Linked DNA regions of Homo sapiens. The protein of the gene in region 2 purifies or fractionates together with the protein of the main gene of each other region. This does not show direct contact. Each region holds a gene or a part of one and is shown on either strand. Other genes may lie near its edges.

Region 1 (4,479 bases), on a different chromosome or scaffold from region 2:
AAAGAGAGAGAATTCTGGAAGGGTATGAACTAAGAATTTATTTTATTTATTTATTTTTTGAGATGGAGTTTCACTGTTGCCCAGGCTGGAGTGCAGTGGTGTGATCTCGGCTCATTGCAACCTCCACCTCCCAGGTTCAAGCGATTCTCTTGCCTCAACCTTTCGAGTAGCTGGGACTACAGGCACGCACCACCACGCCCGGCTAATTTTTGTATTTTAGTAGAGATGAGGTTTTGCTATGTTGGCCAGGCCAGTTCTCAAACTCCTAACCTCAAGTGATCTGCCCGCCTCAGCCTCCCAAAGTGCTAGGGTTACAGGCATGAGCCACCGCGCCCAGCCCTGAACTAAGAATTTATAATGGTGACGTCTGGATGGTGAAAATATTATTTTTTTTTGACATTTAAGGTTTTTTTGTTTTTGTTTTTTTTTTAAATAGAGTCGGAGTTTTACCACGTTTCCCAGGCTGGTCTTAAACTCCTGAGCTCAAGTGATCCGCCCACCTTGGCCTCCCAAAGTGTAGGATTATAGGGATGAGCCACCACACCCGGCCAGACATTTAAGGTTTTAAAAAAATCTTTGCTCATTTGTGGTTTTTAAAAAATGTACTACAATGAGCACATACTATTTGTGGAACAATAAAAAAGTTATTTCCAAAGGAAAGTGGCTGGTAAGGAGGCTGACATGACAGCCGGCAATAATAATTAGTGATCATTACAAGTTGGAAAAAGGGACCTTCTCCTTGGATGGTGCACCTACTATGAGCCACATAATTTATGGCACCAGAGAAGGGGGAATTAGCCCACAGATGATTAAACAGAAAGTCAGAGAGAGAGAATGACTGGCCTGTCCTGCATGTCGCAATCTGAATCCAAGTTGGTGGGCTTGGGGAAAAGTTGACAAGAAAATATGTGTGCTGCGCCCAAAGTAGGAGATGGGTTTAGGTGAGGAGAAAAGGGGAGGGGTTCTCAGATTTTTGGGTTGAGAGAAGCTGGAGCTGTAGGTTCTTCCTTTCCCCTTACCCTGGCTGGAACAGCCGAGCTCTCCTTTTCCCGCAAGATCTCCCGGTAGCTGAAGGAGGAGATGCTACTGCTGTCCCCTGTCTGGGTCCGGCTTGGTGAGTTCATCTCTGAGAGAACCAGCTCCTCAAGGCCTGGGTGGTGGAGGGAAGAGAAACTTGAGCCCCAATACCCCTGAGTCCCAGGGCAGCAACCAGCAGGAAGAGGCAGAAATAGATTTAACAGAGATGGAAAGAGAGACACCTGGGCATGGGGAAAGGCAGAAGCAGACAGGAGGACAGGGAGAGACAGAGACAGAAAAAAGAGCTGAGGCTGGGCGCACTGGCTCACACCTGTAATCCCAGCACTTTGGGAGGCTGAGGTGGGCTGATCACTTGATGTCAGGAGTTCGAGAACAGCCTGGCCAACATGAAGAAACCCCGTCTCTACTAAAAATACAAAAATTAGCCAGGTGTGGTTGTGTGTGCCTGTAATTCCAGCGATTCAGGAGGCTGAGGCAGGAGAATCGCTTGAACCCAAGGAGGCGGAGGTTACAGTGAGCCGAAATCGCACCATTGCACTCCAGCCTGGGTGACAGAGTGAGACTCTTGTCTCAAAAAAAAAAAAAAAAAAAACAGAAAGAAAAGAAAGAGCTGCCTTTCTGGAGAAACACATACAAAATGAGAGGGAGAAAATGGAAGAGGTTGGAGAAAGAGAACGACATGGGTACACATGGGTCTCAAGTGGCAGACACACTTGGACACAGGGTTCAGAGAAAGGAAGACAGCTAGAGAGGGCACAGGGCACATCCACTTGCAGAAAGAAAATGCCAGAGATGGAAAGCCAGAGCAGATGATAGAAACTGAGACCCTGGTGAAAGAAGTGAGCCAGAGCAGAGACAGAGAGAAAAAAAGATGCCGGGCGCGGTGGCTCACGCCTGTAATCCCAGCACTTTGGGAGGCCGAGGCGGGCAGATCACGAGGTCAGGAGATCGAGACCATCCTGGCTAAAACGGTGAAACCCCGTCTCTACTAAAAATACAAAAAATTAGGTGGGCGTGGTGGCGGGTGCCTGTAGTCCCAGCTACTTGGGAGGCTGAGGCAGGAGAATGGTGTGAACCCGGGAGGCGGAGGTTGCAGTGAGCCGAGATCGCGCCACTGCACTCCAGCCTGGGCGACAGAGCGAGACTCCGTCTAACAAAAAAAAAAAAAAAAAAAAAAAAGAAATGCAAGCAGGCTCTCGTACCCACGCACCTAAATCTCAGTTTAATCTAATGGACAAGGTGAATGTATTGAATGTATGGTATACGATTGTAACGTTTCCCAAGATTATTATTATTATTATTTTTTAGACAGAGTTTCAGTCTTGTCGCCCAGGCTGGAGTACAATGGCGCAATCTCGGCTCACTGCAACCCCTGCCTCCTGGGTTCAGGCAATTCTCCTGACTCAGCCTCCCGAAGTAGCTGGGATTACAGGCGCCCGCCACCACACCCAGCTAATTTTTTGTATTTTCAGTTGAGACGGGGTTTCACCGTGTTGGCCAGGCTGGTCTTGAACCCCTGACCTCAGGTGATCCACCCACCTTGGCCTCCCAAAGTGCTGGGATTACACCTTTCCCAAGATTCTTACATTCATCTGTGATAAAACAGAAACAAAACTCCTTTTTAAAGAAAGGTTACTTCAGGAGACCGAGTGCCTCAGAGAGAAATTGATTTGGTGAGAGATACACATCTGTTTTGCCACATCACTTAAAGCCCTCGAGGATCTCTGGCAAGGGTGGGGTGACTGAGTGGGGATCCGTAGGTATCCCGAGTGGGGGAATAAGGGACCAAGTTTTCTCTGAGTCTGTAATCTAAGAGATGCACCAGAGCCATCACTGCATTTTACTTACTTAAATGTATTTATAGGCCATCCCCGTCTTAAAAAAGGCTGAAGCAACTAAAGTTGTGTGTGTGTGTGTGTGTGTGTGTGTGTGTGTGTGTGTGTCTTCTGCTTGAAGTGGCAGAAATAACAGATTGGATTAGCTGTATAATGAAAACACCACAGCGTTGCTGACTATGTATAAGTCTGTCTCCGTAGCTCAACTGGGGGCTTCTAGAGGGCAGAGACTCAGGGAGTTTTATATCAGGGACCCTGTACTTGAGCAGGGAGATTTATAGAATGAGAGATTGTATACAATAGATTTAGAAATGCCAAGTGAGGTGTGGGAGTGTGTAATGTAGTACATACAGTGAGGAGACAGACAGAGATATAAACAGAAGAGACGAAGAGGACACAGAGTGGCGGGAAGAGATAAAGGGACAGAGAAAAGAAAGGGCGGGGGCCGGGCCCAGTGGCTCATGCCTATAATCCCAACACTTTGGGAGGCTGAGGCGGGCGGATCACCTGAGGTCGGGAGTTCGGGACCAGCCTGACCAACATGGAGAAACCCCGTCTCTACTAAAAATACAAAATTAGCTGGGCGTGGTGGTGCATGCCTGTAATCCCAGCTACTCAGGAGGCTGAGGCAGGAGAATTGCTTGAATCCAGGAGGCAGAGGTTGCGGTGAGCCGAGATCACACCATTGCACTCCAGCCTGGGCAACAAGAGCGAAACTCTGTCTCAAAAAAAAAAAAAGAGAGAGAAAAGGAGAAAACTAGAGAAAGAAAGCAAGGAGATAAAGGCAAACATAGAGGAAAGAGAGAGAACAAACTGAGACAGAGGCAGAGACAGAAACAGAGAAGAGACAGGGCAAAAACGAGAGAAAGATAGAAATAAAGAGAGAATGCAGAGAAAGAATCAGAGGAGAGACAGAGAAAAGGTAAAAGATGGAGTTCCAGAGCGACAGAAGCAGGAAAGCACAGCTGAGGAAGATGCAGGACTAACCTGCAGCCTGCAGGCCCAGGCCCTACCTCCCCCATGCCTCAGCCTCCTCTCCCTGTCCTAGTCCCTCACCTGAGCGGCTCTTGCTGTTAGTGAGGATGTCCTGCAGTCGCTCCTGCAGCTTATCTGCCCGTTTCCGCTCCAAATGCAGCTGCCGCTTGAGGTCCTTGAGCTGTGGGGGACAGGGGTAACATGAGGACTGAGGCCCAGTGGGCCCATAGGAGGGAGGCTACAGGTAGGAGGGAGCCGTGCTTGGGCACCGCTCTGTCTTACCGCAGCACTGCCCTTCTTCTCCAGGATCCTCTGCCCATCCACTGTGTCCTTCACCTCCTGTGGGAGAAAGCAGGCATGGCTGGTAGATGCCGGAAGGGCTGCCTGAAGCATGCTCCCTCCCTGCCCCTCCTGTACGCTGAGGATCAGGGGTGTGTCTGGGGCTGTGCAGTGACCACTGACCTGCTTCAGGCTGCTAATGGTCTTCAGGTGGCAGTCCCGCTCCTCCTGGGCCTGCTCGAGCTGATCCCGTACATCCTGTAGCTCCTCCTCCTTGCCCTGCAAAGCAGAAAGCAGCTTAGGCATTGGCTTGGGAAGCCTCTGTCCTCCCAGGAGGGCCCGTCACTGTCTG
Region 2 (5,459 bases):
TTACAGGCACATGCCACCACGCCTGGCTAATTTTTGTATTTTTAATAGAGACGAGTTTCATCATGTTGGCCAGGCTGGCCTCGAACTCCTGACCTCAAGCACTCTGCCCACCTCAGCCTCCCAAAGTGCTGGGATTACAGGTGTGAGCCACCACACCCGGCCCCTCATAGGAAATTTAAATGCCAGAACTACCAGTTCTTTTTCTTGGAAGAGATCTACTATACTACGTCTAGCAATGTTTTCTTTTTTTTTTTTAAGCCTATATTTTTAATACATTTGTTCCCCAAAAGGTCACTTTCTACTTTCAAAAAACATGTGAGTCACTCGAGATGAAAAACAGCTTATCTAAAAATGTGTTATAGCTCCCAATAACTCCAAACTGACATCCCAAGATATGAGGCTGTTCCACAGTGAGAGAACTTGGAAACTGGAACTCTCTGATTACTTACTTGTTAAAAAAAGGTTCAATGAGTTTTGATCTGGCAGACACATGAATTTTTGGAGGGCTGAGAAAAGAACCTAATGAAGAAAAGAAGAGAGGTATTATTATTCATAGTCACATAGACCAAGCCTGAAAGTTCAGACCAAAACAGATTTAAATTAACAGCATGGTTCAACAAGTGTGAAAGGTATTCTTTTTTTTTTGAGTCAGAGTTTCACTCTTGTTGCCCAGGCTGGAGTGCAATGGCGCAATCTCGGTTCACTGAAACTTCCACCTCCCAGATTCAAGTGATTGTCCTGCCTCAGCCTCCCGAGGACCAGGGATTACAGACATGTGCCACCATGCCCAGCTAATTTTGTATTTTTAGTGGAGACAGGGTTTTTCCATGTTGGTCAGGCTGGTCTCAAACTCCTAACCTCAGGTGATCCACCCACCTCAGCCTCCTAAAGTGCTGGGATTACAGGAGTAAGCCACTGCGCCCGGCCTGTGAAAGGTATTCTTACGCACCAAGTACCATACCACAGCAAGTGTCAGTGGTTTTTCTTGCAGATTTCCTCCTCCCCTCATCTCCTCCCACTCCTACCTCAAAACCCTCCCACTTTTAATTGGGTGAGTGGATCCCAAGGAAATGGTAGTGCTATAGGTTCAATGTTTGTGTCCCCCTAAAATTCATATGTTGAAGCCTCCCCAGTACGATGGTATTTGGAAGTGAGACCTTTGGGAGGTAATTAAGTCACGAGGGAATTAGTGCCCTTATAAGAAGGGTCAGGAGGCTGGGTGCGGTGGCTCAAGCCTGTAATTCCAGCACTTTGGGAGGCTGAGGTAGGAGGATCACTTGAGCCCAGAAATTCTAGATCAGCCTGGTTAACACAGCAAGACCCTGTCTCTATAAAAAAATTAAAAAGTTAGCCAGGCACAGTGATGCACACCAGTAGTCCCAGCTACTTGGGAGGCTGAGCCCAGGAGTTCAGCGTTGCAGTAAGCTATGATTGAACCACTGTACTTCCAGCCTGGGTGACAGAGTGAGACCCTGACTCTTAAAAAAGAGGCGGCACAGCTTCTGCTCTCTCTGCTCTCCACCACGTAAGGACAGGAGAAGGCAGCCATCTGCAAACCAGGAAGTGGGCTCTCACCAGATACTAGGTCTGCTGGCAACTGGGTCTTGGACTTTCCAGCCTCCTGAACATGAGAAATAAATGTCTGTTGTTTAAGCCCCACACTCGACAGTAATTTATTACAGCAGCCTAAGCCAGGAGACAGGTAAGATCCACCCTAGATCACTGCGTGTTTGACTGAAAGACATGTAATGCGTACCTAGGTAATTGGCCATGGAGATGAAGCACAGCCCTGTGATGTAGGCATCGTAGCCTGCCTCGTGGAGTTGTTCAGAGGCTGTGTCATAACTTGGAAAACCTTCGGCACTTTCTAAGAAAAAAAAGGAAAAAGTTTTCCTCAAAACAAAGACTAGTAAGCACATTGCCCTACCAATCAAAATTGCATTAGCATATGCTAGAGAAATACCCTAAATAGGCAGAAAAAAGCTATCTATTCCTTAATTCTCTCTATATAAGACCTTAAAATACAAGATAACAGAGTCACTGAAAAGGAGGGCTTTGGTCTAGGATACAGAAATGCCTCAGTTAGATTACAAAGGACTCAGCCGTGGGCTTTCTCGTCCCACACTGGTGGGTGCTATTTATGATCATCCATAACTCACTCTAGGACAATGATTCCTCTTCTGCTTGCTTTCTAAGGCCATGAAAAGGATATTCTTCCCTTATACAAGATGGTCACATCAGGCCACAATAGATGATCCAGAGTAAAGATTAAGAGCATGGGCTCTGGAGTCACACTGAGTTCGAATCTCTGCTCCACCACTTATTTGCGGTATGACCTTGGGCAAGTCACTTCATCCCTAAGGTTCCAGTTTTGTAAAACAGAGATGATAATCAAACCTTCTTCAAAAGGTTATTGTTAGGATCAGATAAGATAATATAAGTTAAACTCTTACCTAGTGCTTGGTACATAGTAAGTGCTCAAAAACTGTTATCTATCAATACCTGAGGCAACCCTCCCCCAAAAAAAGAGAAGACTGCAATTCACTATCAACAGCTCCAACTCACTACTGTCCTCTACTATGTTCCCAAGCTTAGAGATCGAAAGGTGACAGCACAACCAACTCCAAAAATAAATCGAACTTGCTATAATGCTGGCCTTGGATCATGGAACCACTTTACAGCAAAGACCGCTTTATATACAATATGGTTCTTTTGTGACATTGATAAATACAGATGTGACCAGATAAACTATAAGAGGAATGACCTGCTTTAGACTGAATTCTCTACCAGATACCACTATTTTATATGGAAATAATAACATAAAACTATAACTCATAAATAATTATATCCTAGAACCATTCTGGAAATGAATGTCAGGAAGGTTACTATAACACAGAATCAAAAGCATAAATGGAAATTAACAATGAAAAGGCTGTAACTGTTTTTATGTCAATACAATGCTCTTTAAGCAAGAATTCTTTAACTCCATATTAAATATTAGACTTGATGCCTTTAAAAAAAAGCCTTTTAACATGGTAGCCACCTAAGTAATATCTTCCACTCCATCATCAACTGAGACACATTCTTTCCAAAATCAATTATTTCCATTATATTGTTATAGAAAAGGTCCACGTTTTCTCCCCCAATGGCCCCACCACCACTTTTCTTAATTCCTTTCTTGGACTATTACCCAGAAAGGGGCAAATAACTGTAATCTTGGCTGCTTTAATACTTTGCATTATCAATTTCTAAACCATTAGTCCTATTATCCATGTCTTTAGAAGTTTTCAGGCTACAACTAATGGCTCGCTAATCACCGTATCAGCAGCACAATCAGGTTAACAGGGACCAAGGAAGTAGCACCTGGTAGGCTCTCCACATACCTTGGTGGTGGCCCGAGGTGGCAAAACACCTCCATCTCATCTCCCTACTTCTGGTTTTCCTCAGTGCTGCTGTTTCTACTCTCTAAACCAGCTGAAAAGGAGGCAGGGTGGGGACTTGCCTTAATCTCACCTGTAAATCCAGTTCTCGGGCTTTTCTGAGATGGAAAATATATTTTTTACTCTACCCCTGGTGATTAATCACTAGCTCTTTGTCTCTGCTTCAATAATGTATGAAAGAATAAAAGGGCACATCAAGTTTTAGGAGAATTCCATATTATTAGAAAATAGAAGCCTTGAAGCTTTAATTGCTAAAATTCTCAATGAATGGCTACCCAACTCCATTAACATAAAATATATGTAGAATTAAAAGACCATCTTTATTCAAAAAACAATAATTCAACACACGGTACGTGCAAGTGAATTCAGCCAAAATCTATAAATGAACAATACGGTCTCCAGAGCCATTCTGCTTTTCTTCTACAATATACATCAATAATTATTACAAAGAGTTTGGAGGGTTTCCGGTTTAATATTCTTACCAACTTTAGGAGGGTTGAAAGGTGTCTCTTTTAACCGCTTTTCCAATTCCGCAAGGGATGTGTTGTTAATGATATCCTGCAAACCACGAAGCAAAGAATTATGAGATTTCATCATCTCAGAACAATATATTAAAGAGATTCACTGACCCCCCCAAAAAAAAGACAGCATCTAGTACTGTCTCCTTGTGTTCTTTAAAGAAACACAGAAGTCTTCGTTTTTTTCAATGTGAAAGAGAAGCAGCTAGTTTAATTTTTATAATATACAAAGTATAACCAAATGAATAAAGATCTTTACAGATGCATTAAATACCTCCAAACCTTTTGCCAGAAGGCTATATTGTTCTGGCATTCATTTCACTCAGTAATATGCAGTCGCTTTATAAAGTAGCAAATGAATAATACCTTAAAAGGTTGTGTGCTGGCCATCAATTTAGTATCCAAGAGTCTAAAAAGAATTTTTAACAAGGTAAACAAAATGTATATCAATGTTTAAAATGTCTTTTACTCAAATATGTAAGCTACTTAAAATACTTCATACATAAAAAACATAATTAAAACATAAAATGTTTAATACAGAAAATACTTAAACACAGACAAAGTAATTAAACACATTGGCCATTTTGAACCCAGCACCAGCATCCCTGCTACGTTGGAGTAGGTACTCAGTCCCATCATCAGCGACTTCATTGAGCAACTGCAGGAGAGTCCACACTTGGAGTACAAGTTCTAGATTCACCTGGATCCTCAGAGAGCCTGGGCTCCATCAATCTCAAGGGTGAGTCAAATACTCTCACATGGTTTTACGTGGTTCAAATACTGCTGCCGGTCTACCATTCCCAAACTGCTACCATCTACTCCTACTCCTCAGGTTTGTAAACTATAAATTCTTCTGCAGGGCCAAAATCTACAATCAGTACTTTCACGCTGTTGTTTTTATTTCTTATTATTCTATTTCAGAGATCAGAAACACCAAAAGGGGAGGGTGGGGAGAAACCCACATGAAAACTCTATTTCTCTGTTTTTTTTTTTTTTTTTTTTCATATAAATGTGAACAGAGTGGGTAACAGGACAGAAATAAGCCCAGCTGAAAGAGAAACTGCTCGAACACCACGCCTATCCCTCTTCAACAGGTCCTAAGACACAAACACTTGTTCGGTAGGCTCCACATGGCTGACCTATGATGTCTCAGAGATATGTGACATATGACCTATCAGAACAAGGGGGCAATAATAACTATGGAAAACACCAACAGGAAAAGGCACTGACTTGAAGTGGATGAAAAACAAAATCTCTAGCCAGATGGACAGTTCTTGACTGACTCTTGAACACTCTCAATTGGACACTTCAATAGTTACAAGGTACATCCTACATGCAAGACAGACAAGAGCCATCTCAAGGAGGCTTCAACAGTTCTTCAGACAGCAAGATGAGAGATAAGAAAAAAGGAGTCGTTGGTCTACTTTCACTCTCAGTTCAAACTGTGATTTTTTGATAACAAAACCAATCATAAATTATAAAAGCAAGCCATCACAACATT

What was found. Proteins that work in one complex are often made in the same cells at the same time.
Region 1: the proteins of PARN (region 2) and GRIPAP1 fractionate together in Homo sapiens (co-fractionation; one large-scale study listed by BioGRID). This does not show direct contact.

Annotation. Positions count from the first base shown.
Region 1 is NC_000023.11:48,977,286-48,981,764, forward strand, and holds part of GRIPAP1 (GRIP1-associated protein 1), read right to left. Parts: intron 4,407-4,479; coding exon 4,311-4,406; intron 4,188-4,310; coding exon 4,131-4,187; intron 4,030-4,130; coding exon 3,930-4,029; intron 1,151-3,929; coding exon 1,020-1,150; intron 1-1,019. UniProt on the Homo sapiens protein: Regulates the endosomal recycling back to the neuronal plasma membrane, possibly by connecting early and late recycling endosomal domains and promoting segregation of recycling endosomes from early endosomal membranes.
Region 2 is NC_000016.10:14,580,425-14,585,883, forward strand, and holds part of PARN (poly(A)-specific ribonuclease PARN), read right to left. Parts: intron 4,368-5,459; coding exon 4,325-4,367; intron 3,999-4,324; coding exon 3,923-3,998; intron 1,868-3,922; coding exon 1,757-1,867; intron 520-1,756; coding exon 450-519; intron 1-449. UniProt on the Homo sapiens protein: 3'-exoribonuclease that has a preference for poly(A) tails of mRNAs, thereby efficiently degrading poly(A) tails.